3 separate regions of the Homo sapiens genome follow, and all the other regions are linked to region 2. The links come from fine-mapping of genetic effects on gene expression. A gene starts in region 2. Each other region holds a variant in brackets. All regions are shown on one strand. Distances are from middle to middle.

Region 1 (10,693 bases), 49 kb after region 2:
CCATCATTCTCAGCAAACTATCACAAGGACAGAAAACCAAACACTGCATTTTCTCACTCATAGGTGGGAATTGAACAACGAGATCACTTGGACACAGGGTGGGGAACATCACACACCGGGGCCTCTCAGGGGGTGGGGGGTTGGGGAAGGGATAGCATTAGAAGAAATACCTAATGTAAATGATGAGTTGATGGGTGCAGCAAACCAACATGGTACATGTATACCTATGTATCAAACCTGCATGTTATGCATATGTACCTAGAACTTAAAGTATAAAAAAGAAAAAAGAAGTGAAGCCTGAAGATGCGACTGAATTGCTGCAATCTCATGATAAAACTTGAATGAATGAGGAGTTGCTTCTTATGGTTGAGCAAAGAAAGTGGTTTCTTGAGATGGAATCTACTTCCAGTGAAGATGTTGTGAACATTATTTGCAATGGCAACAAAGGGTTTAGAATATTACATACACTTAGTTGATAAAGCAGCAGCAGAGTTTGAGAAAACTGATTCCAATTTTGAAAGAAGTTCTATCGTGGGTAAAATGCTGTCAAACAGCATCTCATGCTACAGAGAAATCTCTCATAAAAAAAAGAGTCAATTGATGTGGCAAAAAAAATACAATTTTTTATATATATATATAGTTGCTCTTCCCTTCCTGAAAATGTCATCCAAAAGCCATTAGGTAGGGCCAAGCAAGGTAAGCATCCCCATAAGGGAGAGTGTCTGCCATGGTGAATCCGCATGGGTGTGTTGGGATCCAAGCAGGGAGACATCCACACAGTGTCAGCATCAGATACCTCAGCCACAGTGGGGTGAGCAGAGTCTCCTCAGTGGGGGTGGGGCACAGAGAGGCAATGCAGCCACAGGAAACTCGTTACACACCAGGAAACTGATCAAATATACATACTGAGGAAAATAGGAGACAGATTTCTCACTGTTCGAGAAGGTAGCATAAATACAGAAAAGAAGAAAACTAGAAAAAGCTCTTCCAGCCTGGGCAATATAGGAGGACTCTGTCTCTACAAAAAATGGGAAATTAACTGGGCATGGTGGTGCACACCAGTAGTCCTGGCTCCTCAGGAGGCTGAGGTGAGAGGATCACTTGAGCCCAGGATTTCGAGGCTGCAGAGAGCTATGATTGCACCACTGCACTCCAACCTGTGCAACTAGAGGACTCTACCTTAAAAATATAAATAATAAATAATAAAACTCAATAATATAAAAACAAATAACCCAATGTGAAAAAGAGCAAAGGACATAAATAGATATTTCTTTACAGAAGATATACAAATGGCCAAGAAACACATGAAAAGATAGACAACATCATTAGTCATCAGGGAAATGCAAATAAGAACCACATTGAAATACAAAGTCACATCCACTAGGATGGCTATAATTGAAAAAACAGACAATAACAAGTGTTGCCAAGGATGTGGAACAATTGGAATTCTTATTCATTGCTAGGGGAAAATGTAAAATGGGACAGCCACTTTGGAAGACAGTGCGGTAGGTCCTCAAAAATTTAAAGATAGAATTAGTTGTTTGACCTAGCAATTCCACTCCTAGGTATGTACCCAAGAGATATGAAAATATATGGCCACCGAAAACTTCTCCAAGAACATTCACAGCAGGATGTATTCATAATAGCTAAACAGTGGAAACAACCCAAATGTCCATCAACTGACGAATAGATAAACTGTGGTATGTCCATACAATGGAATTATTCATCCATTAAAAATGAAGTACTGATTTATGCTACAATACGGATGAACCTTGAAAACATTATGGTAAGGGAAAGAAGTCAGTCACAAAAGACCATATATTGAACAATTCCATTTATATGATATGTTCAGAATAGGCAAATCTATAGAGACACAATGTAGATAGTTACCTAGGGCTGGCAGGGATGGGAGAATTGGGAGGTGAAAGCTAACAGGAATGGGATTTCTTTTGGGGATGATGAAAATGTTCTAAAATTGATTATAGGAGTGGTTGTACAACTCTGTGAATATACATATTAAAAAACATTACACAGTGTATTTTAAATAGGTGAAGTGTATGATACATGAATGATATCTCAATAAAGCTATTACCCCCAAAAAAGGACATTTGGGACAATTCACAAATTAAATAAATAATATAGTAACAAAATATAGCCTATTGAATACATTAGGAATCCATTTGTTGATATTGATCTAAACAATGCACAAAGAGCTTGATGAGGGGCAGGATATATAGATAGTCTAAAAGTTCCTCCCTGCAAAATACTTATTAAATGCAAAGGGAAAAATAACCTTACAGGGAGAAACTTAATTCTCACTCAAATGATCAAAGTTAACATCACCAGTACAGGATATATCAAAATCATGTACCATCTGATAGGACACAATGAGAAGAATTCAATATCACTTCTGTGATATTCCTGCCAAAGATGCATAGTCTGAATTGAATTGTGAGGAAACATGAGATAAATCCACACCGAGGGGCTTTCTACATAATAACTGGCCGTGAAAGTCAAAGACTGGAACTAACTGTCACAGATTGAAGGAGACTAAAGAGACGTGACAACTGACTGCAATACATCTTTACTGCATCCTTTTGATAATAAAGGACATTTGCAGAACCATTGACAAGGGGGTCTGAGGAGTCAATTGTGATAGCATTAATTTTCTAATTTTGATGATTGCATTGCGATTTCAAGGGAGAATGTCCTTGTTTGTTAGAAATACAAAATAAAGCATTATGTCAGCAACTTGAGTTCAAACAGGTAAGTGGAGGAGGGGGTTTCTTTGTAATGCTCTTGACAATTTCTCTGTAAGTTTCAGACTGTTCAAAATAAAACAAGGAACTCCAATATATACAATCTAACTAACTGGTCCATATTCTTCAAAAATATCTGTTACAAACATACACAAAAAAAGCTGATAAACTGTTTCCAGGTAAAGGAGGCTAACAAGAACTTAAAAACTAAATGCAATGGGTAATATTGAATTAAATCTGGGACCAGAAAAAAATAATAATATTATAAAGGATATTATTGGGACAATTGATGAAATTTGAATAAGATCTGAAGATTATATATCAATGTTAAGATTCCTAATTTTAATCACTGCAATGTGGCATGTAGGTGATGGCCCTCAGGAAATGCACGCGAAAGTATTTAATAGTAAAACGGCATGGTGTCTGCAACTTATCCTCAAATGCTTCCATAAAAATAATTTTAAAAGAGAATGATAATGCAATTGCAGCTTAAAGACAATACTAGAGTTTTGTAATATTCTTGCAACTTTCCCATAAATTTGAAATTGTTTTTAACAATTTTAAATAATATTTAAAATGAAATATAAAACTCAATACCATGTACATACAATAAAAACGCACACCAAAAAAAAGAGCTTATTTTGTGAGAATATATGACAACAAAGACTAACAGCAAATACAACCCAGTGGTTTGGAGGAGGGGGTTGTGAAATTCAGGGAGGAGAATGTGAGTGCGTGAGTGCTCAGTCTAAAAAGATTAAACACACAATTTTTTTTTTAAACGGAGCTTCACTCTTTTCGCCCAAGCTGGAGCGCAATGGTGCGATCTCGGCTCACTGCAACGTCCGCCTCCCGGGTTCAAGCGATTCTCCAGCCTCAGCCTCCGGAGTAGCTGGGATTACAGGCGCTAGCCACCACGCCCAGCTAATTTTTGTATTTTTAGTAGAAACGGGGTTTCACCATGTTGGCCAGGCTGGTGATCTCCTGACCTCAGGTGATCGGCCCACCTCGGCCCACCTCGGCCTCCCAAAGTGCTGGGATTACAGGCATGAGCCACCGTGCCCGGCCTAAATACACTATTTTTAAAACAGACTAGGGAGGGGAGCTGCCGAAACAATCCCCAAACTTCTCACTTCACACTTCTGAGGAATGAGATGGGGTAGAAGTAGGGACAAGCATGAAGGGAGGTGTCATGTTTTATCTTTATCTTTTGGCACTGTTTGAACTTTTATTATATAAAATACAACCACATAAACAAATATGTAATTTTTTAATACAGACAAAAAAATGATGGAACATCTATATAATGTTACCAAGACAGCTGCTAGGAATGAGATAGAGCTACTTCCATTAACATGTAAGAAAACTATGACCTATTTTTTTAAGGCAATTTGCAGAGTGGCAGGGAATATAAATCATTGTTGCAAAAAACATCTAAATAGTTCACATATGCAACGTAGTAACTATAAGCCATGCTACTTCTGCACAGAGGATTAAGGAAGGACTTGTAGACACTTGTCTGATTATTTTATGAGTTTGTGTTCACTTATAATCTTTAAATTAATCTTATGTGAATATATTCTTATTAAAAAATCAAATAATATATGTATTGCTTTTATGATTTAAAATACATATTACTGTGGTTTAGAGAAGAAATTGTTTCTTAAAGGACAATTCCTATTTCTTTCTTCAGCCTCAAGAGTCAGAAAGCAAGACAATTAGTATTTTTAAATAAGGAAATGTAAACTAGTTTTCAGTAAAACATAATTTACAACAATAATGATTATGTAATCATGCCTCTATTAATACAGCAACCGTTTAAAATAATGCAAATGCACAATAACCAGGCTGTCTGTTTCCAATTTCCTTGGACTGGATGGCGAGAATCCCACTTTCCTGGACTTTTCCACCCACATTTATGATCCCTCGCAGCGTATAACCACTACGTACCTCTCCAAACCCAACAAACTTTGCAGCCTGCGCAGACAAAGGTTTCTATGTTTCTCTCTCCATTTCTACTTGGCAAACCCCTGCCTGGGGCTGTACTCGGGAGTCACCTTCACTTCCTTGCTAAGTCAGGTGAAGCCTTACCTGACTTTCTCCAGGCTGGGGAAAGAACCCCCACACCCCTCACCCACTCCCCGGCTCCCATTGCCTCTTCTTTCCTCTCCCTACCGTGCTGCCCACTTTGCGCGGTAATTTTTGCTCCAAGGGCCTGCCTCCCAGAGGCTTGGGGTGCAGGGAAAGTGCTCTAAGGGTGGGACTGATTTAGTCTGGACATTCCTGACCGGTAGCACCACGCCCATAATGACCCGAAAATAAATGCCTGCGTAAATTGCTTTGGGAAGCGGTTGGGCAATTTATTAAGAGTAGTGAAAATGTCCCCTTCCTGCTGAAACAGTAAGAATCTTGAAGAAATAATCCTCCCCAAAGGAGAAAACTATATACACGAAGATTTTAGGTTGTGTATTATTTTCATACAGAAAAACTGGACACGGAAGAATATCAAGTAATTGAACGGTTAAGTAAATTACACAGTAACATAATAGAGCATTACTCGGCCATTGAAAAGTATACTTATGAGGATCATAGCACATAGCAAATACTGAAGTGTGGCCTCAAGTAGAAAAGACTGAATACAAAACTACATGTTCACCAGGACTAACATTATGCAAAATAAAGATGCACATTTAAAAAAAAAAAAAAAAAAGACTGAGTCTTTTAGGGGTAGCACGGGGATATTTTTCCTGCTTTCAATTCTATTATTGCTGTTCTAGCCATGCGAACAGTGCACAGAGGTTGGAAGTGGCGTCAAGAGGAGTCTTACCATTGTGTATATGACTGTAAAACTGAGAAAAAGAAGGTAATATCAGCCTGGGGAATGCATTTCTAATGGCGGGACTTCCTGCACCTTGACCTGCCAGTCGGGGTTGTGGCCCGGCAGTGGCATTCCCAGGGGGTCTCAGAACAAAACGACGGCCACAGAGTCCACCTGGACAAAAGGGCAGGGAAGGGGCCCCTCGCCCTTGACCCTTGGGCTCTGCTCCGGCCACCCTGAGCCGAAGGCTGTTTGGGTGAATGCGTGGGGTTTCTCCGGCGATCGATCCCTTTGGACTGGCTTCCCCACTAGCAACCTGCGCGTCCCCACCAGAACCAGCCGGCTGGCCGAGCGAAAGCCCGGTTTCGGGAGACCTTGCGGGGAGAGCAGCTGGCCCTCGCCCACCGGGCCGCGCTTTGTCTAGGGCGCGAGTCCGCCCGTTTCCGGCCCCGCCCCTCGCCCTGGTCCCAGTCCGCCCCTCCCCCTACCCGGCTTCCGCGTCTCCGCTCCCGCGCTGCCGGCTTCCGCGGCTTCCCCCACTTCTCAGCCTGCTTCTCTCTCCCCTCTCCTTCCTTTCCTGTCCTTTCACACTCGCGCCCCAGCCCCCGTCACCATCTACCCCAAGGACTTGCAAACTTCGCCCCTGAGGAGCGGACTCTTCGGTTCTCCGTGGAAAATCAACCAGACCCAAAACAGAGGTCCCGGGTTTGGGGATACCACGCCGCGCGCCTGAGCATCCGGGCTCCATTTCTCCAGGCGACATCTGCGGGAAGGGAGACCTAAAGGCCAAGGCTGGGGACGAGAGGCAGGTGCCTGGAGTAGTGGACGGTGGAAATGGCGACGGCGGCCTGCACCCAGCGATCCCGAAAGTGCCCATGTATCCGTCCATCTGGGTTTTTTTTTTTCTTAGATCATCCACCAAGGCCGGGGTTTCCGAGTGAGGCGCCCACTTCGCATCCCACAGTACCGCCAGGTGTGTTTCCCATGAGCTCT[T/G]TAAGAGAGAACCCAAGAGCTCTTTAAGAGAGAACCCAAATAATGTGTGAATACCTTCTCCAATAACTTCAAGTCAGAGGCTCAGACACACACACACACACACACACACACACCCCTAAAACATATTTATTTCGTGGAAGAGCGTGTATCCCTCGGCTGTCCTTCCAGCTCTCCCTTGGTGCGTGTGCAGGACGCACAGAAGGGTGGAGTGTGGGTTGCGATTATTTTTACACAGAAGGTGTCACACTCTGGGATCTGTTCCGCAGGGAGGCCACAGGTGCCAGGAGACGCGGGAGAGACTGGCTCCTGCCAAGAACATTTCTTTGCATTGTTCAGTGCGGTTTTTTATTTTTATTTTTGACTGTTTGTTTGCCTAAGAGATGACTTCCCTTGCCAGAAAAAAAAAAGTGTTGTAAAAATAAAAGGAAACGGGATTACGATGTAAAAGACGAATAGATAAACCCGGTTCCGCAGATCTGCGGCGCGCGCGCCTGGCGACCTCGGATACATTCATTGAAGTTGCCGCGCACTCGTACCCGGGTTCACCTCGCCCCTCGCTCATTCCTCCCGACCAAGGCCCATGGTCAGAGGTGTCCTCGCCCCGCGGCCGTCAGAGGGCGCGGCCTACACTCGAATGCCGGCCGAGCCCTCCACGCGCTCGGAACTTGGGCTTCCCGGTGCAGCCTCCCCGCGATCGCAATGCCCGCTGCCTTTCCCGAGCCCAGTCCGGAACCCGCCTCTCTCGGGGACCTTGACCTCGCGCGGACCTCGTCGCCTTGCTTAGCTCTCCCTGACCTGCTTTTGAACCCGCTAATCCCGTCCCGAACTCTCGCCCCGCGGCAATCCCTCGCCCCGGCCCTGGCGCGCTAATTCCCGCTGACCCCGCCGCCCCGCCGCCTCTCTCCGCTCGCGCGGCTGTGACCAGGATAAGGGCTTCCCGCCTCTGAGTGCAGGTGTGATCTGGAGCTCAGGCAACTACTGCCCCCGCATTGTCCCCAGCCCGCGCTCGCACCCCCAGGACCCAAGCAAAGCGTCTCTTGCCTCAAACATTCTGCCCTTCTCTTGCTTCCTCTTGTTTCCCTAGCATAATTCATGTCTTTCTTTAAGAAACCCATCGGACCCACAAAGATCAAAATCTTCGGTAACACACCAAACTGGCGACGCTGTGGGGAAGCAAGCACTCTCCCAAGTGGCTGGCGCGCAGTGAGGGCGCAGGAAAGGTAAGCAGGAGACCCGCCGCTAGGAGCCAGAGCCAGGCCGGCGAGGCGGGCAGGCAGGAAGAACCGCGGACAGGGCGACTTGATCTCATTTTTAAAACCGGAGAGTGAGATGGGACGAGAGCTTGAGCTTCTAGGGATGGGGCTGAGATTCTGGAGAGACACCTGGTAGTCATTTCTTAATCTTTTGTGCTGCTTAGAATTTTTTCTTAGATGCATGTTTTCCTTTTAAAAGAAAAAGAAAAAAAAGAAAAGGCAGAGCGGGGTGGCTCACACCTGTAATCCCAACAGTTTAGGAGACCAAGGAGGGAGAAGCCCTAGCGGCCAGGAGTTCCAGATCAGCCTGGGCAACATAACGAGACCCTCGTCTCTGCAAAAAAATAAAAAATAAAAAATTAGGCGAGTGTGGTGGTGCCTGCCTGTTGTCCTAGCTACTCAGGAGGTTGAGGCAGGAGGATAGCTTGTGCTTAGGAGTAGAAGGTTGTAGTGAGCCGTGATCGTGTCACTGCAACCAGCATGGGCGACAGAGTGAGACCTTGTCTCTTAAAAAAAAAATAGTAAAAGTCATTATTTTAAAAGTTGATGAAATTAGTTCACACTACACACATTTACAAACACAGGTCACACACACACACAAACACCTCCAAGGCAAGGGTCTGCACATTTGTTTGGGGTTGTTTTGTTTTGTTTTGTAAGCAAACTGAACCCAACACAAAGCACTGTACTCCCCTTCTTGGTGTTTATTACAGGACCATGGAGGCTTAGTAAAAAGCATTTATTTAAGGGGAGTTATTTTCAGAGGCTGTTTTCTAGCCAGGAAAAAAAAAAATCGGATACTTAGACTTATCCCCTGGTATGTGCAACATGTAAACAACCAGGTAGCATGCTTCTCCCACCCCCAAAGATCAAACTCCAGGGTTCCAGCCTTGGCCCTGTATCAGTCTGACTGCCCCTGGAAGGTTGGCCATCTCCAGTGATATAGGCTACATGACCGACTATTCGAGTCTGTTTGGCTCACAGCTGTCCCCTAGTGCCTGGCATATTTTAGGAACTCAATAAACATTTGTTAGATGACAAATATTTCAAAGAATGTGCAACAGCTCCTGGAGAACTGTTTCCAGTAGATATAAATTCCTAGCAGCATCTTGGGGTAAGAGGACGGGCCCCCGAGGCTGCCACCTCTAGAGGGCCTTGGATAGTGGCCAGTGCCTTCCCACACAGGCCCAACAGTCACCCAAAACAGGCTGTCATTCAGCTCCTCACCCTTGCATTTTGAAAGTCCTCTCCCAGGGTCAAGAGATAGAGAATTCCTCTAGCCTGGTCCCACCCAGGCCAGTGGCTCCTAGAGACTCAGTCCCTAGGTAACCCCTCCTATTCACCATGGACAATAGGCCACTCAGCAGACAGGCCTTGGATGCTTGTTGGGACCCACCTGAGCCCGAGAGCAGAGCTTCTGGCTCACATGGTGAAGGGGAAACCAGAGAGAGGGTGACCTAGGAAGAGGTGCCAGAGATGCCTGGCTCCTGATTGCCAAGGTCAGTCTGGAACCCGCTTGCAGGTGACACAGATCACTGATCGCAAATGATTATTGCTTGAGGCAACAGGGCCCTAAACCTGAGGGTTTCCTAGCACTGGGGACATGGGAGACAGGTGGTTAGTGACCTTGAATGTACAGTGTTCTGGCTTGCACAGAAGGCATGGCAAAGACAAAAAGGACAAAAAGATGAAAAGGAGACCTGCCTACTTTGTAGTGACTAGTGGCAAAGACGAAAAGAAGACCTGCCTAAGTGGTAAGTCACTGTAGGCAACCTCTCTGAGGCACAGTCAGGAAGGAAAGGTGAGCCACTGCCCTTGATGGAAACACAGAAACGAAATGCTTCAAATCCATTCTAACAATGACATTTAAATTTGTGTTTTACTGGATTTGTTTGACTTTTAACACACCACAAATTCAAAAGGTATCAAAGGATATAAAGGCCGCCCATGCTGACCTCCAGGCCCCTCCCCAAAGACAGTCCAGAGAGCAGTCCCAGTGATCCAAACTGCACCCTGAGCTTTCCAGGAGCATCACGTGGGAAATGCCTGGGAAATGATGCCTGCCCCCTCCCGTGTCTCCCCCGCGACACACAAACACACACACACACACACACTCACACACAGCCTTTGCAATCTCCGTTTGCCTCTTTGCCAGAGGACTCAGATCTTTCTTGGGCTCGAGTTGCTGTTCCTTCCCTGAATTGTTCTTCCCTGGGCCTCAGGAAAGGCTGATGAATAGGCTGGGGTTCTCAGGTTGGGAAAAATGCAGGATCTGGCTTTGGGTATGAGACTGGAATGATAAACTCAGAATGCTCCCCAGGGTCTGTGCCAGGGCCGAGTTGGATGAAGACAGGGCTCCAGCCTGGGCCTCACAGCACACTGTCCTCTGAGCCCAATGGCCACTTTTGGGAAAAAGAGGGTTGAGCCAACCTGGGAGGAGAATTGCTGTCCTCAGCCTTGGCAGCCAGTTGCATTTCTCCTGCACCCACCACCTGGGACAGGCACTAAGGTAGTCAGTGTGGAGGGCCCTGGAATCTGGGTTCACAACCCGCATGCTGGACAGTCTCCCGCTGCTCCCCTTGGGCATGGCTAACCTCCTCATTTCTTCATTCACCCTGGCAGGAGGAGGAGAGGGAGCAATTAGGGCTACAGTGTGTTCTTGGCTCTAAGCCTTAAATGATACAAGCTTAAATCTTTCCTTCAGCACCCACAGAGTGCCAGGTAAAGTGCACTGGGTTAAGTGCTCTGAATATATTAATTTACTCCTCTTAACATTTCCAGAGGTTGATACTAATATTACTCCCACTTAATGGATGAGAACACTGAAGCCTAGAGAGGTTCAGCAGCCTGTTAGCAACTAGTTAAGTGGT
Region 2 (10,693 bases):
ACATGCTACTGAGAACCAATCCTTCTTCATTAGGTCATCAATATTTGGGGATTTTTGTTCACGCAGTATAATCTTGCCCATCCTCCCTGGCCCAGTGCTCATACGCCCCCTTCACAGAGCCCATAGGCACAGCACTCACCTGCTCACTCTCTGAGGTCACCGAGGTCAGGTGTGAATTCCTGGACACACAGAACTGCTCGGCACTATACCAGGTCTTTGGAATGAGAGAAAAGTAATAGAAGTTCCCCTTGAAGTACTTCCAGCCTTGAGAAACCACCTGTAGAATATCATCTAGAGAACAAGAGGTAAAAGTGAACGCTGGTATTCTTGATTTCTTGGGATGCTGGCTTGGTGGGGGCACTTGAATGAGGTCTCAGAGACAGCAGCAAATGGAGCTGTGCGCTGGTGTCCTTGGGTCCTTGTATAGGAGATTAGGGACACTCTTTCAAATCCTGAAAGTCAGACAGAGACTAATAGAGTCTCTGGGACTGGAGAGGTTATAATGCAAGAGGTTGGACAAAGAGTGTCTTCCCCATGATGAGGAAGCAACCCTCCATCGGCCATGACAAGTGGCTGAGCCCCTGGACTCTAGAAAGGAACTTGATGGGAAATGACTAGGTGTGGGCCAGGGTGGACATCCCCTAATGCTTTTACATTCTGCACTTTTGTGTGGGAGCTCTAGCTGGACCCTGGTCTCTTTTCTCCTAACAGCCCCTAAGTCCTCCCCAACCTCAAGCCCTCTCTCCTTAACTTCCTAGCCCATGGCTGCCCCTCTTTTGCCCCCACTCTCCTCCCCAACCCACCAGCCCAATGGCCTCAGGTCTGGGACAGGTAAGATCCCATGGGCCACTGGTCAGCTTCAATGTAATTTTCTGAGTCACTTACTTTGTCGTTTGAGCAACTTGCTCATATTCTCCAAGCTGCCCTGGAGTGCCCGGATCTTTGTATTTAAAGCACTGGCTTTCTCCAAATCACTTTTTAACTCTGGGATTTGGGCATTTAAGGTACTGACTTCTTCCCAACTTCTTGTTAAGATCTGGATCTGTGCGTTGGCCTTCTCCACACTGGTTTTTAACTTCAGGAACTGAGAACGCACATAACCCAGGCTCTCATTCACCATCTGGATCTGAACGCCAGCTGCCTCCATGCCGTCACTATTCTTTTTAATTTCAGAATCCAGGGTGCTGATGTTGTCCACACGACCTTTCAGCAACTGGACATTGGTCTTTACATCTGATATGGTGCCCATAAACCGGGGATCTGGGATTGAGAAAGTCAGGAGGTCAGCTGAGGGGAGTCCCAGGGACAGGAGTGGGGGTGTTGTCAGGTTGATCAAAGGAAGGGAAGGAATAGGCTGAAGCTTCCCAAAGAACCAAGACAGTCCAATGGGCCACCCCAACCCTCCAATCATTCATTAACGTACAACAAACGTGCAATGGGCACCTACCATGTGCCAGGAACACAGGTGGATACAGATAATGGGGAGATTGATAAAACACAGGCTCTCTGTGAAAAGATTTCACAGGCAAGCAGAAGCAGGAGTTAGAAACCATTCCTGAATTTTCTGAGTGTTCAGGGAACATTTGATAAAGGGTGCCCTCCATGAGCCCCACCACTGTCCCCAGAACTTGATTCCCCCTAGACCCCACCCCTTGGTTGCCATCCCTCTGTTTTCAGAAACCCCTGCAGTGGCCATCTGCTAGGACAGCACCACTCCCCCACATCTGTCCATGGGCCCCTCTGTGACCATGGGAAGAACCAGCCACTAATCTGGAAGTGGCTTCTCCAGAGAACATGGAAGAGGAGATTACAAAACTGTTTCTCCCCTTCCCTTGCCCCACCCACTTTCACATTCTGCTCAGGTCCCAGGCCTGGGTACCAGAGAGAGGATCAAAGATAAACCAAGAGGCTCAAAGGCGAGCCCTGAGGAAAATGCGATGTTAGAGGCCAGGGGTCTAGGATGGGGCAAGGGGGACTCTGCTCAGAGCCTACAAGTCTAAGCCCAAATATGTCCCGAGGCCACAGAGGGAGAAAAAAAAACCCAACAGCTTCTTGGGTCCCTTTGCTCTGCTTCCTGGAGCCCTGGCAGGAGGAAGAAGGCTCTGCCAGCAGCAAAGGCCATGAAGCCTGACAGAGCCAGAAAAGGAAGAAAGATAAACCATGCAACATCAAATGAGCAGGAAGCCTCCCTAGATGTGATCTTCACAGGGACAGGAGAATGAAGACAGCACCAACGAGTCCTGGGGAGAGGGGACTGAGTCATGGAGATCTGTTGGCTCGTTGGCCAGGCTCTCCATCTGGTGAGCTGGGGCCAATGATACATGAGGCTCGGTCCTTCACAGGGTCAGGAGACATTGCACTGTCAAGGACTGTCCACAAGGCTCTAGATCCAAGGAGCAGAGCTCAGATTGGTGGGGGGTGGACGGGGAGAAAATAGCACAGGATGTAAAACTAGATCAATGTTTCCTGAGGACAAAAGAATGTATCCTTGAGCACCAATGTGCAAATGCTAATCCCAATAATCTCCCAGAAATTGGGAGGGAAAGAGCATCAGCTCACCGTACTGGGGGCAGCACAGCCTGTTACTGCACATGGAAAGAGGAGGAAGGAGACAAATGAAAAAGCCACAGGCAGGAGAAACCCGGAGAGCAGGGAAGTGGTCTCGATCTGAAGGGAGCCGGCTGGCCACAGAGAGGGGCTAAGCCCAGACGATGAAACATGAGGACTTACAAAGGACGGCCTGCAGCAGGACGGAGGCGACCAGGACCAGCGTCAGGCAGATTAATGCAGCACGGACTGTGGGTGTTTTCCCCGGGACCAGAGATGGACCGGACTTGGGAGGAGGCTCTGTTGGAAGAAGAAGAAAATGTGTGTTGAAGGAGCAGCAAAGGGCAGGTTTGCACACAGAACACGGAGCAGGTTCTCAGCAGCGATGTGGCTTGCCTCGGGGCCAGAGGGAGATGTTCTGTTTGTCCACAGTGAAGTGCGCATCAGGGGCCTCCTTCTCCACAGTCATCCTGAGTGCTCACCCTTATCCTGGGAGCACAGGTGCTTCTGGCTGCCTGTCTCTCCAAGGGCTCTTATCTAGAGGAAACAGGAAGTCAGTCCCACAGCAGGTCACCATATCATCCCAACTTCCCTATTCCTGACTAGATACCTTGTCTGGCTTACTCCCATCCTCAGAAGTCTGAGCTTTCAGGAAGAGGCCATTTGTTGTCTTCTCTGGGGGTCTGTTACATGGATACATTAACCATCTTGTCCCAAACCTATCCCATTTCTCTTGTAAGACTCTCGTCATCCATCCACCCATCCATTCACCCCACAAATACAGGCTGAGTGCCTTCTAGGTACTGATGCTCTACCAGGCATAGGGCCACAGTGATGAATAACTCGCAGTCCTTGCACCAAGCAGCTCATAGTCTGGTAGGAAAGACAGACATGAGCAAATAAATTGCAAGGTGATGAGCACAAGAGACAAATATGCCCAGTTCAAAGAAGCATATGAAATGGAGTAATGGGAAAAAAAAAAATCCAGTAGAAAGATAAGCATATGCCAAAGGATGGAGCATAAGATAGCATGGAGTGCTTGGCAAATTGTAAATAGTTGCAATATTGCTGGAATGTAAAATATACATTCCAACAGGAAGGGGATGCACACGGGGTTGAAGAGGCACCTGGGGTCTGATGATGAAGATCCTTCTGATCATGTCAAGGAGCTGGACCTCTGGCTTGTGGGTGACATGGGGCCAATTAAGGACTTCAGGCAGGAGAGAGACAAGGACAGGGACACTGTAGAAACATCACTCTGATCCTGGTGAGGAGCAGACTGGTGGGGAGAAGCCTGGAAGCAGAGATACCAAATAGGCAACCATTGCAATAGAATATCCTGCTTCCTGTTATTAATGCATCTTGGCTGATACAATATCCCTTTATAATATGCAACTTGGAGATTCAAAGTGTAAACCTAAGACTTGGGTTCTCCTCCCTGCTTCCTGCACCATGTGAGATTTTCAAAAAAAGTAGGGGCGCTCAGCAACCTCAGACTAGGAATCGTTCTGTTTCTCTCTCCTCTCTCTCTGTCCGCACCTCCTCTCTCCTTCTTTGTAGTCCTAAATAGAGAGTTCCATATGTGCAAGAAGCTCAGGGCACAGAAGAGCTGATTTGGGCTCAATGAAGGACTAAATTTTCTCCTGGGCGGCTTCTCATGCTTTGAAGAAGTCTGCCAAATCTGAGAAATTTGGCACATGGCAGACTCTAGACAAATATTTCTTGGAATATAGGAAAGAGGAGAGGAAAGAGGGAGGGAAGGAAAGAAAAAAGAAGGAAATTGGTCCAGATAATTGGAGGATGGGTGAATGGATGAATGGATGGATAGAGGATGCATGGATGGATGTGTGAATGGTAAGTGACTTGGAGACTTGATAGCTGATCATGCCACTCAGACATTTACACAGTCTGGGGCCTGGGATCTGCCTTCTAGAAGCTGCTGCTTTTTTCCACTGTCTCCAGAAGTTCTCATTCATCTTCAATGCAAAAGCATAAGGGGAAGTGTGATTTACTCCTTACCCAGGAATGAACAAAAGCTCTGGCCGCAGGAAAAGAAAGCTGTCCTGGGCCTGCTGAGGCTGAGCCAGTGGAGCTGGATGACAGCCTGTATCAGGGACCAGGATTAGAGGTTAAGTTAACAGGGCCAAGGAAATATCTACCTATGCTTTCAGGGGCTACTGCCACCTTTGGTACTTGGGAGGATAGTGGCTGCACGCTCAGCCCATGCCTATGTGCAGCTCATTGTAGTTACAGGCCCTTGATGCTCTCTCTCCAGCTAACCGGGCCTCAGGCTGGAGTGGCTTCTCGGACTGGATGAGGGAACCCAGAGAGGACCCCACACTGGGAAGCTCTGGGAAGGAAACTGGGTAGCAAAGATGGTGTCTCATTTGTTCTGTCCCATCGCTTCCCTACCCAGCCTGTCTGTAACTTCCAGGCCTGCTGTCTGCTCTAAATTTTAACATTTGATAGTCCCGAATATGAGGGCCTGGCTCCACATCACTGCCTGCCTCTGGGTGTCCATGAAGATTCCTACTCTCTTCAGGTGGCTCGTGTGGTTGCAGAGCCTTGGTTCCATCAGGGCTTAGACAGGATTAGAATGTTCCACTTCTGGACTCTCATGCTTGGGACCCAGCCTAACTCCAGAATCATCTCTGCCCTTCTGCTCCTGGCTCCTGGCCCTTCATCCATAGCCTGTCCTATTTCTGGGCCTGGGGATAGAGAAGAATCCAAATTACTCAAGACCCTGGTAGAAGGGGCCTTGCAGGGGTCCATGTCTCCTCCTGAGGCATTTGCGGGAAAGAAGCCGCCACACAGTGTGCCTGGGAAGTGTCTTGTCCATTTCCGCTCGGTCAGGAAGTTGGGTTTTCTCTGCTGGTTTGTGGTATGAGTTATACTTTATAGAGCCCCCCAGATGCCCTCTCATTGGTCCCAGGAAAGGATGAGGAAGCCTTAGCGGCTGGGCCCATGGCATAGGAAGGGGCTGGAGCAGGGAGCATTTACTCCAAGTGATGGAAATGCAGGCTGAGGTAGGTAGAATAGCTACCGCTAGGCGAAAGGCTGTTCCAGCATGAGGAAGCTGAGCAAAGGCATGGAATCCTGGGCTGTGGGCCTTCTGGGGTTTCAGAGGAGGTGGATGTAAAAGTCCCAAACCATAGGAAGTTTCATTTCCCACTTTGTGGAGAGGGAGGGAGTCAGAAGCCATCTTCCTATTATCATGCTCATCTACAGGTCTTTCCTGAGCACCTCTCCTGTGCAAACCTCTGGATGCTCTATCTGGCACCTGGCCTGGCAGGAGAAAAGACAGAGAAGCAGGCAGGTGCCTTGGCCACACTTTCCAGTCAGGAAGGTGGGCAGTTCTCCCGGGCACTCAGACAATGCCCTGCTCTTCCAAACAGAAGAGGAACTCTGGCCAGACCTAGTGACCAAAAAAATCACCGCTGTGATGAGAACGGGAAGTCTGTGCTCATTTTTTTAGTTTCTCCTCTTCCTGTGTTCCTGGGGTTCTAATATTTTCTCTGGATAAGGATGGAGGAAGAAAACAGCTTGGTCACTTTTTCCCTTTCTCTGGTTGAGACTATGGTTGGGCCCAGCCTTATGCTTGGAGGAGAACCATGGGTTTAATCAACAAGACTGGAACAGAGACCTGGGTTGTATGAAATGCTCCAGCAGTGCCAAGAGTCATCTCCAGGGAGGAGTCACCCAAGTCCCTCAGTCAAGTCATGGAGGAAAGTAGAGTGAACACCAAATTGCGGAGTGGGGACAGGGAAGGAGAAGAGAGGGAGGAGGGGAGAATGACTCTGAAATGAGAGGAGATTACAGCTGGTCACACCTGGCTTACATAGGGACTCCTGTGATGTGATGCGGGATTTGGCCCACAGCCTCCAAAAAATCAAGGGATTCCATGCCACCCTCCGGACATGCGCCCTGGGCACAGGGGATAGGGCAGAGAAACCAAGGAGCATAGGTGGCACCATTCACTCCTCTAGTCCTGCTGTGCACTAGGTACCAGGACACAGCAAGGAAAAAGACAACCACAGACCCTGCCCTCAGGAATGGTTTTCCTATTGTTGAAAAAATATGACATCCTTAATGCTGGGGAGAAGGGAAGGCTCTCCCGAGACTAAAAATGACTGACGACACTATAGGGGCCTTCCCAGGTCTCCTTGGACCCTGATAACGGGTTCCTCTTTTATGACATTATATGAGGACAGGTCTCTTTGGAACAGTGACAATAAGCCAGACCCTACTGATCAGGGTATTTCACCCAGTGCCATCATAAATAGTGTGATATGTAAATAGGCTGGCAACCTAGCCACATGGAAGAGCTGCTGTGTACCCGGCAGAGGAGGCTGCCCCAGACTACGTCATAAGTCAAAGAACTCATGCCTATAGCCTCAGTGGGAAGGGCAAATCTATGTCAGGAAAGTAATGAAAGGCTTTTGGGAAAAAAAATGTGCATAGTTTCTTTTTAAATCTTTTATTTATTATATAATTAATGATAATTAATTATAGAAAAAAATCCAAGTAAGAAAAAAACCCACCATAGGCTGGGTGCAGTGGCTCATGTCTGTAATCCCAGCACTTTGGGAGGCCAAGGTGGGTGGATCACCTGGGGTCAGGAGGTTGAGACCAGCCTGCCCAACATAAGTGAAACTCGTCTCTACTAAAAATACAAAAATCAGCCAGGCATGGTGGTGGGTGCCTGTAGTCCCAGCTACTCGGGCGGCTGAGGCGGGAGAATCACTTGAACCTGGAAGGTGGAGATTGCAGTGAGCTGAGATTGTGCCACCGCACTCCAGCCTGGGTGATAGAGTGAGACTCTGTTTCAAAACAAAACAAAACACAACAAAACCATCGTAGAGAAAACAAATGTTGTACCCATAGTTCAGTCTTCCTAACCACCCACGTGTATATGTATACACATCTATATCTATAGCCATAGCTGTGTCTAATCATAACTATGCATATATTATATACATATTCACAACACAATTCCTGCTTATTTTCCCTAGCATCCTTCCCCACCTCTCCTGCCTTTCTTTTTTGTTTTTTTGTTTTGTTTTCTTTTGTTTGAGATAGAGTCTCACTCTGTTGCCCAGGCCGGAGTGCAGTGGCGTGATCTCGGCTCACTACAACCTCCGCCTCCAGGGTTCAAGCAATTCTCCTGCCTCACCCTCCTGAGTAGCTGGGACTACAGGCGTCTGCCACCACATCCGGCTAATTTTTTGTATTTTTAGTAGAGACGGGGTTTCACCGTGTTAACCAGGATGGTCTCAATCTCCTGACCTTGTGATCCACCTGCCTTGGCCTCCCAAAGTGCTGGGATTACAGGCGTGAGCCACTGCGCCCAACCTCTCCTGCATTTCTGATACCAAAAATCCCCCTCCATTGGGAAATTTTTTCAGTTTGTGATTCAAATGGGGCTGCTGATCCTAGATACCCGCAGGTGTAGGAGTGACAACTTGCAATGATGGGTGCCCAGGGTTTGGGTAGGAAGGTAGCTCTCCTCTCTCCCTAAACTGAGGGACCTAAAGATATGACTATAGGGCAGCTAGTAACCAGTTCCTCTGTCATGTGGAAGACCCCAGTAGAATAAGACCAGCACAGAGACAGAAGCTGTAACAAAAAATGAAGAGACAGAAAGTGAGTCCTGGTGCCTTTGAGTGCTGGATCCTGTTGAACTTGAGTTCCATTCCCCACAGACACTGTGTTTCTTGGTTTGGTTATGTGAACACAAAAATGAAAATCTCTTATTTTCATTTGAATTTAATTGGATGAGTTTCTGTTTCTTGCAACCAAAGAGTCCTGTCCAATGCGTTATGTAAGCATATACATTTTTTTTTACAAAACTAGACTTATACCCTATAGTGTGTAAGTTTTTTTTGTGTAATAATATATTATGGATAACCTTAAAATCAAACTTACATCTGCATAATAACTTTTATTTTTATTTCATGCTCTATTGTAACTTCATTTTCACTTTTTATATTTGATACATTTGGATTTCATGATTTTCCATTTTTTTCTTATCTCTTATGGTTTTGTTCAAGTATTCCATGATTTTAGAAAGGAATCTAACTTATCCATTTCTAAATGGGTAGCCTGCTGTCCAGATACCATTTTTTAAAACCATGCATAATTTTATCTCTGATTATGAAGTACCATCTTCATCATGTGTTTCATAATATGTTTGAGTTTGTTTCATATCTTTAAAGGTCTGTTTCTGGACTTTCTGTTGTGTTCCATTTGTCTTTCTATTGATATAACAAAACTCTACAATATTAATTAGTATAGCTTTATAATAAAGGCCCTATCTCCAGACACAGTCATATTGAGGATTAGGGATTCAACATGTAAATGAACAGAAAACACAATTCAATCCATAACAGAGCTCATAGAACAGACTAGCAGAAAAATATAACCCGTAATAAGGATAAAAACCAATCTACTGAAACGAACCCAGAAATGATACAGATGTTAGAATTTCCAGACAAGGACATTACAATAGACATTATAACTGTGTTTCTTGTGTTCAAACAGTTAAATAGAGACATGAAACATTTAATAGATACAAATTGAACTTATAATGACTGAAAAAACTACAATGCCTGGTATGAAAAATACACTGAAAGGGATTAATGGCAGGTTATAAATTGTAGAAGAAAAGATCAATGAAGTTGAAGATATGCCAATAGAAACTATGCAAAATGAAGCTCAGAGAGAAAAAATAACAGAACATCAGGAAGTCTGAGACAACTTCATGCAATTTAATATACGTGGATTTGAAGTCCTCAAAGCGGGTGGAGAGGGACAGAAAACATATTCAAAGAAACAATGGTCAAAATGTTTCCAAGTTTAAGAGCTATTTATTTATATAATAACATGGATGGGTCCATTCCAAGATGGCCAAATAGGAACAGCTCCGGTCTGCAGCTCCCAGCGTGATCGACATAGAAGAAGGGTGATTTCCGCATTTTCAACTGAGGTACCTGGTTCATCTCATTGGGACTGGTTGGACAGTGGGTGCAGCCCACAGAGGGCGAGCCAAAGCAGGGTGGAGTGTCACTTCACCCAGGAAGCACAGGGGTTGGGGGATTTCCCTTTCCTAGCCAAGGGAAGCCATGACAGACGGTACCTGGAAAATCGGTACACTCCTGCCCAAATACTGCTTTTCCTACGGTCTTAGCAACCAGCAGACCAGGAGGTTCTCTCCTGTGCCTGGCTCAGAGGGCCCCACACCCACGGAGCCTTGCTCACTGCTAGCACAGCAGTCTGAGATCGACCTGCGAGGCTGCAGCCTGGCTGGGGGAGGGGCATACACCATTGCTGAGGCTTGAGTAGGTAAACAAAATGGTCAGGAAGCTCAAACTGGGCACAGCCCACCACAGCTCAGCAAGACCTACTGCCTCTACAGGCTCCACCTCTGTGGGCAGGGCATAGCTAAACAAAAGGCAGCAGACAACTTCCGCAGACTTAAACATCCCTATCTAACAGCTCTGAAGAGAGCAGTGGTTCTCCCAGCACAGCGCTTGAGCTCTGAGAACAGACAGACTGCCTCCTCAAGTGAGTCCCTGACCCCCGTGTAGCCTAACTGGGAGACACCTCCCAGTAGGGGCAGACAGACACCTCATATAGACGGGTGACCCTCTGGGATGAAGCTTTCAGAGGAAGGATTAGGCAGCAATATTTGCTGTTCTGCAGCCTCTGCTGGTGATACCCAGACAAACAGGGTCTGGAGTGGACCTCCAGCAAACTCCAGCAGACCTGCACTGACTGTTAGGAGGAAAACTAACAAACAGAAAGGAATAGCATCAACATCAACATCAACAAAAAGGACATCCACACCAAAACCAAGCCAACATCAAAGACCAAAGGTAGATAAAACCACGAAGATGGGGAGAAACCAGAGCAGAAAAGCTGAAAATTCTAAAGAACAGAGCACCTCTTCTCCTCCAAAGGATCGCAGCTCCTCGCCAGCAACAGAACAAAACTGGGTGGAAAATGACTTTGACGAGTTGACAGAAGTAGGCTTCAGAAGGTCGATAATAACAAACTTCTCTGAGTTAAAGGAGCATGAGCTAACCCATTGCAAGGAAGCTAGAAACCTTGAAAAAAGGTTAGACGAATGGCTAACTAGAATAAACAG
Region 3 (10,693 bases), 32 kb after region 2:
CACACACACACACACACACACACTCCCAGCGTCACTGGGAGAAAGCTCCAGCTCCCCAGCCAGCGCTCTGCAACACACCAGTCCCTCTGTAAGTGGTCCCTGCCCTCCTTTCTGGCTTAACGTCTAACAACTGCCCACCCACTTTCCAGCCGCCTTCCTCATGTCCCAAGCCTGCCTGGGCCAAAAGCGCTCCTGTGGGCTGCAGGTGCCACAGCGCCCAGGTCTCTGCAGATGCTGCTCCCTCTGCTGGAAATGCCCTCTCCCTGCCCGGCCCACCTCACTGACTCCTTCAAATCTCAGGTTAGACGCCGATTCCTCTGGTCAGATAGCCCTGGCCCCCAAATCAAGTGAGATTCCCATTCGGGCTCTCCCAGCTCTCCAGGCCACCCCCAGCACAGCCCTGTCACACTGTACTATGTGTGTGTTCCTTGAGAGCAGGCACCGGGCATGCTCACCACATAGTCTCTGCACCTAGCTCAGTACCTGTCACTTCACAGCAACAAACACATTGTGAGCACCCAGCATGAGTTAGGGACAGTCCTCAGCATCTTCCCTGCACTAACTCATTTCATTTTCACAACAGCCCTGTAAGGTGGTGACTTCACAGGAGGCCCATTTTTTTTAGATGTGGAAACTGGGGTACAGATACATTAGGTAACTTATTCAGAGTCACAAAGCTATTAAGCAGCAAGTCTGGTGTTCCAACACAGGCAGCCCAGGTGCAGAGTCCAGTCCTAGCTATAATGCTATACTCAACCATGTATTGAAATAACTCTTTATTGGTTCAGTTAGCTAATGTAAAATGGAGCCAGCCTGACCCCAAGAAGTTAGCTGACTTTTCCTGAGGTTGTCTAGTGAGGTCAGAACTTTGACTCAAGCCCTCAGACTTCTAGACCAGTGTTGCTTATGAACCCACCAAAAAGAGACCAGGGGGTCAGGAGTCACTGGGCTGCTGCAGGTGCAGGATTCTCAGAAAGGCTCCTGAGAAAAAGGGGCCCTCTTCCTTTGCTGCCTTGTCCAGAAGTGCTCATTATAGTCAGGACAGAAGCCCTCCAGCACAAAAGGACACCCCGGCAGCAAGTCTCCTGGTACCCAGCACTATTCATGAGGTTCTATTAAAACAAACAAACAAACCCTTTGTATTTTTGTAGAGACAGGGTTTCACCATGCTGGCCAGGCTGGTCTTGAACTCCTAACCTCAGGTGATCTGCCCAGGGCGTGATGGCGGTGCCTGTAATCCCAGCTACTCAGGAGGCTGAGGCAGGAGGATCGCTTGAAACCTGGGAGGCGGAGGTTGCAGTGAGCCGAGATCGCGCCATTGCACTCCAGCCTGGGCGTCTGTCTCAAAAAAAAAAAAAAAAAACCACCTGAGTTCAGATCCAAACCTCAATTTGATCAGGCCTCTAAATCTAATTGCCAGATTAAAGGAAGTACAGAGGATACTGCAACATGGTGAGTAAGTCCAAAGAATGAGAAATGCTAAGGACAACGGCTCTAGTTACACACACACACACACACACACACACACACACACTCATACATAAAGAGTAAGATGAATGGTCACAGATTTTAAAAGCCTTAAAGATGTATCAAACAAACACAATGTATGGCATTTGTTTGGATGCTGATTGAAACAAGGTACCTGTTAAAGAAAACACATGTGAGACAAAAGAGCAAATGTGAACAATGACTGGCTATTAGTACTAATCTGTAGGTATAATTACTGTGTTTTTTGTTTGCTTGTTTGTTTGTTTTTGAGACAGGGTCTCACTCTGTCACCCAGGCTGGAGTGCAGTGGCTCGATCATGGCTCACTCACTGCAGCCTTGACCTCCCAGGCTAAGTGATCCTCCCACCTCAGCTTCCCAAGTAGCTGGGACTACAGGTGTGCACTATCACACCCAGTTAATTTCTTTATTTTTTTTGTCGAAATGGGGTTTCGCTGTGTTGCCCAGGCTGGTCTTGAACTCCTGGGCTCAAGTAATCCTCCCACATCTGCCTCTCAAAGTGCTGGGATTATAGGCATGAGCCACCATGCCCGACTAATTATTACACTTTTTAAAAAAGAGTTCTTACTTCTTAGAAATACATACGGAAGTATTTACAGATAATAAAATAACTTCAGGGAGAAGAATAGGGATATAGATAAAATAAGGTCAATTGTGGAATCTGGGTAATAGGTATATGGTGGGGGAGTTATATTATTCCCTCTACTTTTGTACTTGCTTCTAAAATGCATAATAAAAGACTAAAATAAAAGAGTCACCCTCACACAGTGAACCAGGCAGCTGCAGCCAACCAGTCAGAAATTATGGATTATGAATCCACTTTATCCAGTCAATTCTGTTCTGGAGTATGGTGATCCCAGAAGGAGGTTTTGAAACAGTAAAGAGCCCCTGGATCTTAAAGAGGAGTCAGCTCTGGTAGGCTCAGAAGCCTGACCCTGGCTAGGTGAAGTGGCTCACACCTGTCATACTAACACTTTGGGAGGCAGAGGCAGGAGGATCGCTTGAGGCCTAGAGTTCAAAACCAGTCTGGGCAACATTACAAGACCCTGTCTCTACAACAACAACAACAAAATTTTAATTTGCCAGGCATGATAGCATGATCCAATAGTCCAAGCTACTCAGAAGGCTGAGGCAGGAGGATTGTTTTAGCCCAGGAGTTCAAGACTGCAGTGAGCTATGATAGTGCCACTACATTCTAGCCTGGCAATAGAGTGAGACCCTGTCTCAGAATAAAAATTTAAAAAGAAAGCCTGACCCTTATAGCTTGGCTACATTTATAGAATATAGAATATTTATTCTTCTTCGCTCTTTTTTTTTTTTGTCTTTTATTGCTATTAAATATTGTTCTCCTTCAGTCTTTGGTAAAAATCTTTTATGAAAATTCCAACTTTTTTCACATGTGGCTAAGGGAAGCAAGGAAAGTTGAGTTTGTTTACCAAATGTTGAGACCCTCAATCCCATCCCCAGCCCCTAAGACACCTGGTCTTCCTCTGCAAGCAGGAGACTGGAAGAGCCTTCTCTGGGAAATCTAACCGGCCCAGGAGAAAGATATTCAAGGCAATGAAAATTGATAGATTTTTCTGAAGAAATTGAGAGGAGTTGTAGAGAGTTGGCAGAGTCTGAGGTTGAATTATTTCAAAGCATATAGAAAACTAACCAAATGAAAAGAAAAAATAATTATTAATTTTTTAAAGTAGTATAGGAAAGGAAAATATAATTGTGATTCAGCTGTGAATAATGTTTACATATTCATAGCAATATGATTACTGAATACTGATATACCAACTGTTATTTATTGGTTTGCCGCATCCATTTCCATTACTGTTATGTTCTTCCCTAAATCACAGCAGATGGAAGGCTAGAAACTATTCTTCCAGACTTACAAAAAGTTTGGGATCTGATTGTGATTTTAGATCTGCCACAGGGATTTTTTTTTTATCTGTTTGGCCTATCAATAATCTAGAAGTGTTTTGAAATCCCTCACTAGGATAGTAAATGTGTACATTTCTCCCTATAATTCGTTCGTTTTTATGTTATCATTAGAAACCATGTTAATTGCTCCCAGCACTTTGGGAGGCCGAGGCAGGCGGATCACGAGGTCAGGAGATTGAGACCATCCTGGCTAACATGGTGAAACCCTGTCTCTACTAAAAATACAAAAAATTAGCCGGGCGTGGTGGCGGGTGCCTGTAGTCCCAGCTACTCAGGAGGCTGAGGCAGGAGAATGGCTTGAACCCAGGAGGCGGAGCTTGCAGTAAGCCGAGATTGCGCCACTGCACCACTGCACTCCAGCCTGGGCGACAGAGTGAGACTCTGTCTCAAAAGAAAAAAAAAAACCATGTTAATTGCATACATGTTTAGAACTGTTGCCGGGTGTGGTGGCTCATGCCTGCAATCCTAGCACTTTGGGAGGCTGAGGTGGGAGAATCACTTCAGCCCAGGAGTTTGACACCAGCCTGGGCAACAGAGGAGAACCCATCTCTACAAAAAATAATAAAAAAAACATTGGTGGGTGTGGTGGTGCACACAGTCCCAGCTACTCAGGAGGCTGTGGTGGGAGGATCACTTGAGCCCAAGAGTTCAAGGCTGCAGTGAGCCATCTTTGTGCCATTGCACTCCAGCCTGAGGGACAGAGAGAGACCCTATCTCAAGAAAAACAAAAACAAAAAAAACCTGTTTTATCTGCTTAGTGAATATTTTGTCATGAGAATGATATTAATATGGCCATGCTTGCTTTTTTGTTTGTTTGTCCAATGTATCTTTTTCCCTTTCTTCACATTCAGTTTGTCCGTATCTTTACATCTTAAATGTGTCTGTTTAAAAAGACATATAGCTAGGTTTTCTGTCTCATCTTTTTTTAGTTCTTTCTCCAAAAGCGTTTTCAGCGTAGGTCATCCTACAGTATATATTGAGAAAAATGTTTAGTATGCCCTCATATCTGAGTGACAATCTGCCTGGATATAAAATTATAATTTTCAAAAGAGTCACCCTCACATACCCCAGCAGGGTCTATGTTCTGCCCTGATCATACCTTCTATAATCTGAATGTGTCCCTCCAGAATTCATTTGTGTTAACCTACGTGGACACTGGGGTGGTATGAAGAGGCAGGGCCTTTGGGGACATGGTTGAGTCATAAGTGCTGCACCCTCATGGATGGGACTAGAGCCCTTAGAAAAGAAGTTGAAGGGAGCTCCCTGGCCCCTCCACCATGTGATGACTCAGCAAAAGGGGCCATATTTGAAGCAGAGCAAACCCTCACCAGACAGAATCTGCCAGCACCTTGATCTCAGACTTCCCAACCTCCAAAACTGTGAGCAATGAATTTCTACTGTTTATAAATTACCCAGTTCATGGGTTTGTGTTTTTGTTTGTTTTGTTTTGTTTTTTGAAATGGAGTCTCTGTCTGTCTCCCAGGCTGGAGTGCAATGACATGATCTCGGCTCACTACAACCTCTGCCTCCCAGGTTCAAACAATCCCCCTGCCTCAGCCTCCCTAGTAGCTGGGATTACAGACACGTGCCACCACGCCCAGCTAATTTTTTTTTTTTTTTTTTTGTATTTTTAGTAGAGATGGGGTTTGCCATCTCTGTTGGCCAGGCTGGTCTCAAACTCCTGACCTCAAGTGATCTGCCCACCTCGGCCTCCCAAAGTGCTGGGATTACAGGCGTGAGCCACCACGCTTGGCCCCATAGTTCATGGTATTTTTGTTACAACAGTCTGAATGGACTTAAGGCAGTACCCCATGGGTACCTGCCCAAACCTTCTGGGCCATTTTCACAGGCTGAGGGAGCACCCAATGGGTATCCTAAAGCAAAAAGGTTAGGGCAGGGCAAGCCACAATTAAAATAATAGCCTGCCCAAAGTTAAACTGCCACCTCCACTTCTTTGCAGCTTTTAAATGACAGGGTTGCTCCAGGGAGTAGTTCCAGCTACATTTCAGAAATCACAGGATTTTGCTCTTGGCTTCAGCGGGAATGATGCTGGTATTTCTCCAGTAAGCTCCAGGAAGATCTCCACGTACATGGAACCCTCTCTTAAGCAATTTAAGTGAACTGCTGTGTGCGTAAAGAGGGTGGCCTATGTGGCTGTGTGTGCATTTGTTTGTGCATACACAGGACGCCCCTGGAAGGTTACACAAGAAACTAACACTATTGAGTGCCTTTGAGGA[G/A]GGTACCTGGGTGACTGGGGACTGGAGTAGGGAATGAAGCTGTTCCATTGTTTTATAGCTCTTGATTTTTTAAAATTTAATTAATTAATTAATTAATTTATTTTTGAGACAGGGTTTCACTTTGGCATACAGGTTGGAGTGCAGTGGTATGAACATGGCTCACTGCAGCCACCTCAACCTCCCAGGCTCAAGCGATCCTCCCACTTCAACCTCCCAAGCAGCTGGGACTACAGGCATGCACCACCATACCCAGATATCTTTGTATTTTTTGTAGAGACAAGGTTTTGCCATGTTGCCCAGGCTGGTCTCTAACTCCAGAGCTCCGCCAATGCACCAGCCTCGGCCTCCCAAAGTGCTGGGATTACAGGTGTGAGCCACCATTCCTGGCCCTTGGAGTCCTTTTGATAAGAACACTAATCCCATTCATGACAGCTGTATGCTTATGACCTAATCACCTCCCAAAGTTCCCAACTCCTAATACCATCACATTGGTGATTAGGATTCAACACATTACTGTGGGGGGACATAAACATTCAGATCATAGCAGGATGAGAGCAGCTCCCTCTCACCTCCCACTCTGGGACTGTGCTTCTGGAGAAGAGTTGGCTGGGGATGCCCTTCACATGGGACAGAGAGTGGATTGGGAAGGAACTGTCATCCTCCTGAGCATTAGGGACCTCCTTCCCCAACATATTTGATATTCCTGTTGTCATGTTTTATCTGTTCAGGTAAAGCTAATGATTGTCCTCTTACAATGGCAAACAACAAAGAAGAAATATCACCCCATATCTCCAAGGGCCTAATCTCTGGCAGCCTGCCAAGATGTAGGATTGGAAGCTGAGGAAAAGGGGGCGTGCATCCTGGAACAGAGCAGATGCAGATACACAGAGTTGAGCTGTTCTCCGACTCTTCTGTTCCCAGGGCCTCCTCCTAGAGAAAGCCCAACTCCTGTGGATTATACCAAGCCTTGCTCAAGTGCAAGCTCTCCCTGGCTCCTGATCCTCCTGGTGCCAGGCTCGCCCTTTACAGCCACAGTTATTTTCGAATGCATCACCCGTATAATCTTCCTATGTCTATCTCCCCTACAGACACTCAAAATGGCCTCTAGTCACTAAGAGGAAGAGGACAGTGACTGACGTCTGGCCACAGGGGTACCCTGGGGTGGGAGCTGCCGTTGTTCACTACAGCAAGGTGGATGTTTTCATTATCATTGTACCCCCAGTACTCAGGGAGTATTCCGGGAGCATAAAGGACTCCTCTTGGGTTTCCCATCCTAATGGGGCTGTCCGTCCTGCCCCTTCCCTTATGGACCAGGATTAGGGAGCGTGGACTGCTGCACTGGGCACGAACAGGTGTAACCAGAGAAATTAGACACGCGGCCAGCTTCCCGGGCCTGGCCTCGTTGGAGACATCCCCCACTCTCCCTCCTTTTCCCACCCCCATCCACCCATTTCTGGACCCTAGGGAGCCATAGCCCACCACCCGGGGTGCCTGCGCAAGGAAGTCGGCGAAGAGCGAAACCCCTCGGTGCTGTAAGTTTGCGACCAGCAGAGGGCAGCACAAGGCCGCTTCCCTGGAGGTGGCCGGCAGGACAGCTGCAGCACTACTGGAGGCGGGCGGGCACCGACTGGCGGCGGCCAGGGTAGGAGAGCCCTGTCAGTGTGAAATTAGCCTGAAGACTGGGGCGTGGTATTAGTGCGTACGCCAGGGGCACGTCCCGGTCCCTGACACCCAGGACACTGTCGTTACCGCCGCCTTCCTCCATCAGTGTGGTACCAAGGGCCGTGTGGTGCAGTGATGGGGGCACAGGCTCTGCCATGAGGCTGAAAGGATGTTTCCACTCCACCGTTTACTGTGTGGCGTTGGGAAAGTTACCTGACCTGTCTGAGCCTCAGCTTCCCCATCTATTACATGGGGTAATACGGCCCACCTCACTGGGTCGTTAGGGAGCTCATAGGCACACCGGTAAGTGCTTAATATTCACCTTCATCAGCACTTTTCTTATTGCGTCATAATTGCCCAACTGTGTATCTCTCCTTGTACAGGTTTCCTTAGCACTTGTGGGAGATTATGTTTGGGATCTATATCCAGGAGTGGAATTTCTGGGTCACATGGCATGAAAAAGTTCCCAGATGCCTGAGCTGCCTGGTCCTCAGGAAAAGGAGGGTGGGGCAGGGGGGTGTCTCCAATCTCAAAATACCTGTCAGGCATTTTGGGATTACAGTGCCCAGCCCCGTCCCTCATCAAAGTAACTGCTCCGTGAGCTGTTGTGAAGCCAAGCTGAGTGGGAATGAGGTTGCCACAGCTCTACACTGGGCGCTACACAGCCCCTGGCTGACCTCAGACCCTGTCCAGATCTCCTCAAACTCCAGCCCCTTGGAGCCCCCTGGTGTTGGGAACAAGACCCCCCAAATCTGGCCATAAACTGGCCCCAAAACTGGCCATAAACAAAATCTCTGCAGCACTGTGACATGTTCATCATGGCCATAATGCCCACACTGGAAGGTTGTGGGTTTACTGGAATGAGGGCAAGGAACACCTGACCCACCCAAGGCAGAAAACCGCTTAAAGGCATTCTTAAGCCACAAACAATAGCATGAGCAATAACTGCTGCAGTTAACTAGCCCAACCTATCCTTTAATTCGGCCCATCCCTTTGTTTCCCATAAGGGATACTTTTAGTTAATTTAATATCCTATAGAAACAATGCTAATGACTGGCTTGCTGTTAATAAATATGTGGGTAAATCTCTGTTTGGGGCTCTCAGCTCTGAAGGCTGTGAGACCCCTGATTTCCCACTTCACACCTCTATATTTCTGTGTGTGTGTGTGTCTTTAATTCCTCTAGAGCCACTGGGTTAGGGTCTCCCCAGACGAGCTGGTCTCGGCACCTGGGTAGCCCAAACTTCTCTTGCTGTGTGAAAGGAAGGGCTGTTCCCTCCCCAAGCCCACAGTGGTCCTCACCCACCTTGGGGGTTTGGGCCACCTGAGAGTGCCTGCCCAGGGCCTGGGTCTCCATGAACTTCTGTGTCTCTGTCTCTGTAGGTGCTTGTTTCTGTGACTGAGGTTGGGGATTCCTAAAAAAGAAATAAGACCCCCCCATCTCTTTCTGGCTTCTTTTTTATTTCTTAGAGACAAGGTCTCTCTCTCTGCCACCTAGGGTGGAGTGCAGTGGCACAATCATAGCTCACTGGAGCCTCAAACTCCTAGGCTCAAGTGATCCTCCCACCTAAGCCTCTCAAGTAGCTGGGACTACAGATGCACATCACCACACCTGCTAATTTTTTTAAGTTTTTTGTGCAGATGGGGTTTCACTGTGTTGCCCAGGCTGTTCTCAAACTCCTGGCCTCAAGCCATCCTCCTGCCTTGGTCGGTCAAAGCACTGGGATTATAGGCATGAGCCACCTCATATGGCCTTCTGTCTCCTTCTTTAACAGCCAGCAGTTGGTGCATATAATTAGTCCTCAATTCTTCCTCAAAGAAAACAAGTTTGAAGCTCAGCCCAGTTGCCCCAGCCTGCACCCAAAGAAAATGTTACTTTTCTTCTCACTGCACAGCCCCACATAGGCTCGGCCAAAGGGGAACAGGATGGAGTCTCCCCAGGGAGTGTGGGCTGCCTCCCTGAGGGAGTGCTGGAAAGAGAGACATGTCCTCTTCGGTAGGAGATAGCTGGTGAGAGAGCGATCCTGGGAACCGTCCCCTGGATAGTTCTGTGCAGCTGACCTGAGGCCAGGGAGCCCTAGCACTGTCTTCTCCCTCATGGCCCAGAGACAGGGAAAAAAATCTGTAAGAATTAGCTCAGGGTAATTTTTTCAGTCCCCATTTACCTTCTGAGCCAGGTAACCTTATGCAATGCACAACGTGCCCAACTGTATATGGCAGAAACTTACATCCTCGCGCTTCCATAGGAAGTAAGATCTCAGACTGTAAAGAAGACTGCGACCAGGCAGGTGTCCACTTGTCCACCCTTGCTCTCTGGGGCCATCAGGGGAAGGTGGTGGTCAATGTTCCTGTGAAAAAATACTGCTTACTCCTGTCAGTGGACCCACAATTCCCTTGTTGCTCCTTCCAGAGCAGCTGCTTCTGGGCCTGATGGTGTCTACAGAGCAGTTTCAGGAAACCTGTGTCCTCCCTTTCCACTGCCTGGCACGTCCCAGCCAACATGGCTGACTACCCACCTGTGCTCAGCATTGTCTCCTGGCAACTGTCCTTATTACCTAACTCCAGCTTCAATGTCTCTTCCTATTTCTCAAATCAGGAACACTTCTCAGTGATACCTATTTTCCTCCCAAACTGTGGTCTCTGACTGAGTCCCTGGTCTCCACCACAGACTTGATGACACTCTTACATATGGCTAAATATGGCGTCCTCAAACACGCATGCTAAACTAAAAACACCACTTCTAAAAATTTATCTGAAGAAATTCTGGCACAAGTGCAAAGATGTATGTTTAAGGAGGGTTATGGGAGAATTCGTTTGTGGTAGTGAAAAACCTCTGAAGACTCCAGATGCCTATTAATAGGGAAATGGCTTAATACTTTATGGGTCACTCAAGCTATGCACTTCCATGCAGCTGATAAAAAGCTTTCCAAGACGTTTAAAGGGCTGGAGGTTGGGAGGGTTGGAAAACAATACGAACAGTCAGAGCCCTTATAGGTTTTAAGAAAATAGAGGACTACATGCAGCTAAATGCATAGACCTGGAAAAGCCAAGGGCCAATAAGCATTTGGGTGGATGCTCAAGATCATTGGTAATTTCCAGAGATGTGGAAATTAGAGCAACAAAATATCCCTTGATGCCTAGCTGACTGGCAAAAACTCAAGAGTGGGAAAATACCAAGTTGACAGTGGAGGGGATGTGTGGATACACAAAACTACGTGCACATTGGTGAGTGTAGACTGGAGCAGCCATTCTGGACAGCAAGCTGACAATATTTAGGCAAGTTAGATGTTTCTAGTGACCCAGAAACTCTACTCCTGGTATAGATCCCAAAGATATTTTCCCACAGATGCTTAGGGA

Which allele goes with the higher level. Positions count from the first base shown, and alleles are read on the strand shown. Sizes are in standard deviations (SD) of each study's normalised expression. Not every link is listed here.
In carriers of allele T in region 1, the expression in visceral fat of the gene that starts at base 3,056 in region 2 tends to be higher than with G alone (moderate effect, 0.68 SD a copy in GTEx).

The links. PIP is the estimated chance that this variant, and not a neighbour inherited with it, causes the effect.
Region 1: its variant is fine-mapped to the expression of CD207 in visceral fat (GTEx, PIP above 0.99). The same link has a PIP of 0.9 or more in breast and tibial nerve.
Region 3: its variant is fine-mapped to the expression of CD207 in whole blood (INTERVAL, PIP above 0.99).

What each region holds. Positions count from the first base shown.
Region 1 is chr2:70,881,799-70,892,491 of GRCh38, forward strand. It overlaps LINC01143 (long intergenic non-protein coding RNA 1143), which reads left to right and starts at 6,073. Exons shown (of 4, transcript NR_126384.1): 1 at 6,073-6,382; 2 at 6,488-6,550; 3 at 7,678-7,790; 4 at 8,023-8,186. RefSeq lists an enhancer at 5,930-6,580. The variant T/G (reference allele first, on the strand shown) is at 6,571.
Region 2 is chr2:70,832,761-70,843,453 of GRCh38, forward strand. CD207 (CD207 molecule) reads right to left here and starts at 3,056. Exons shown (of 6, transcript NM_015717.5): 1 at 2,944-3,056; 2 at 2,731-2,847; 3 at 886-1,260; 4 at 140-291. The coding sequence starts at 3,016.
Region 3 is chr2:70,864,449-70,875,141 of GRCh38, forward strand. No RefSeq gene overlaps it. Among named protein-coding and RNA genes, the nearest start is that of LINC01143, 18 kb to the right of the region's middle. RefSeq lists an enhancer at 117-616. The variant G/A (reference allele first, on the strand shown) is at 5,677.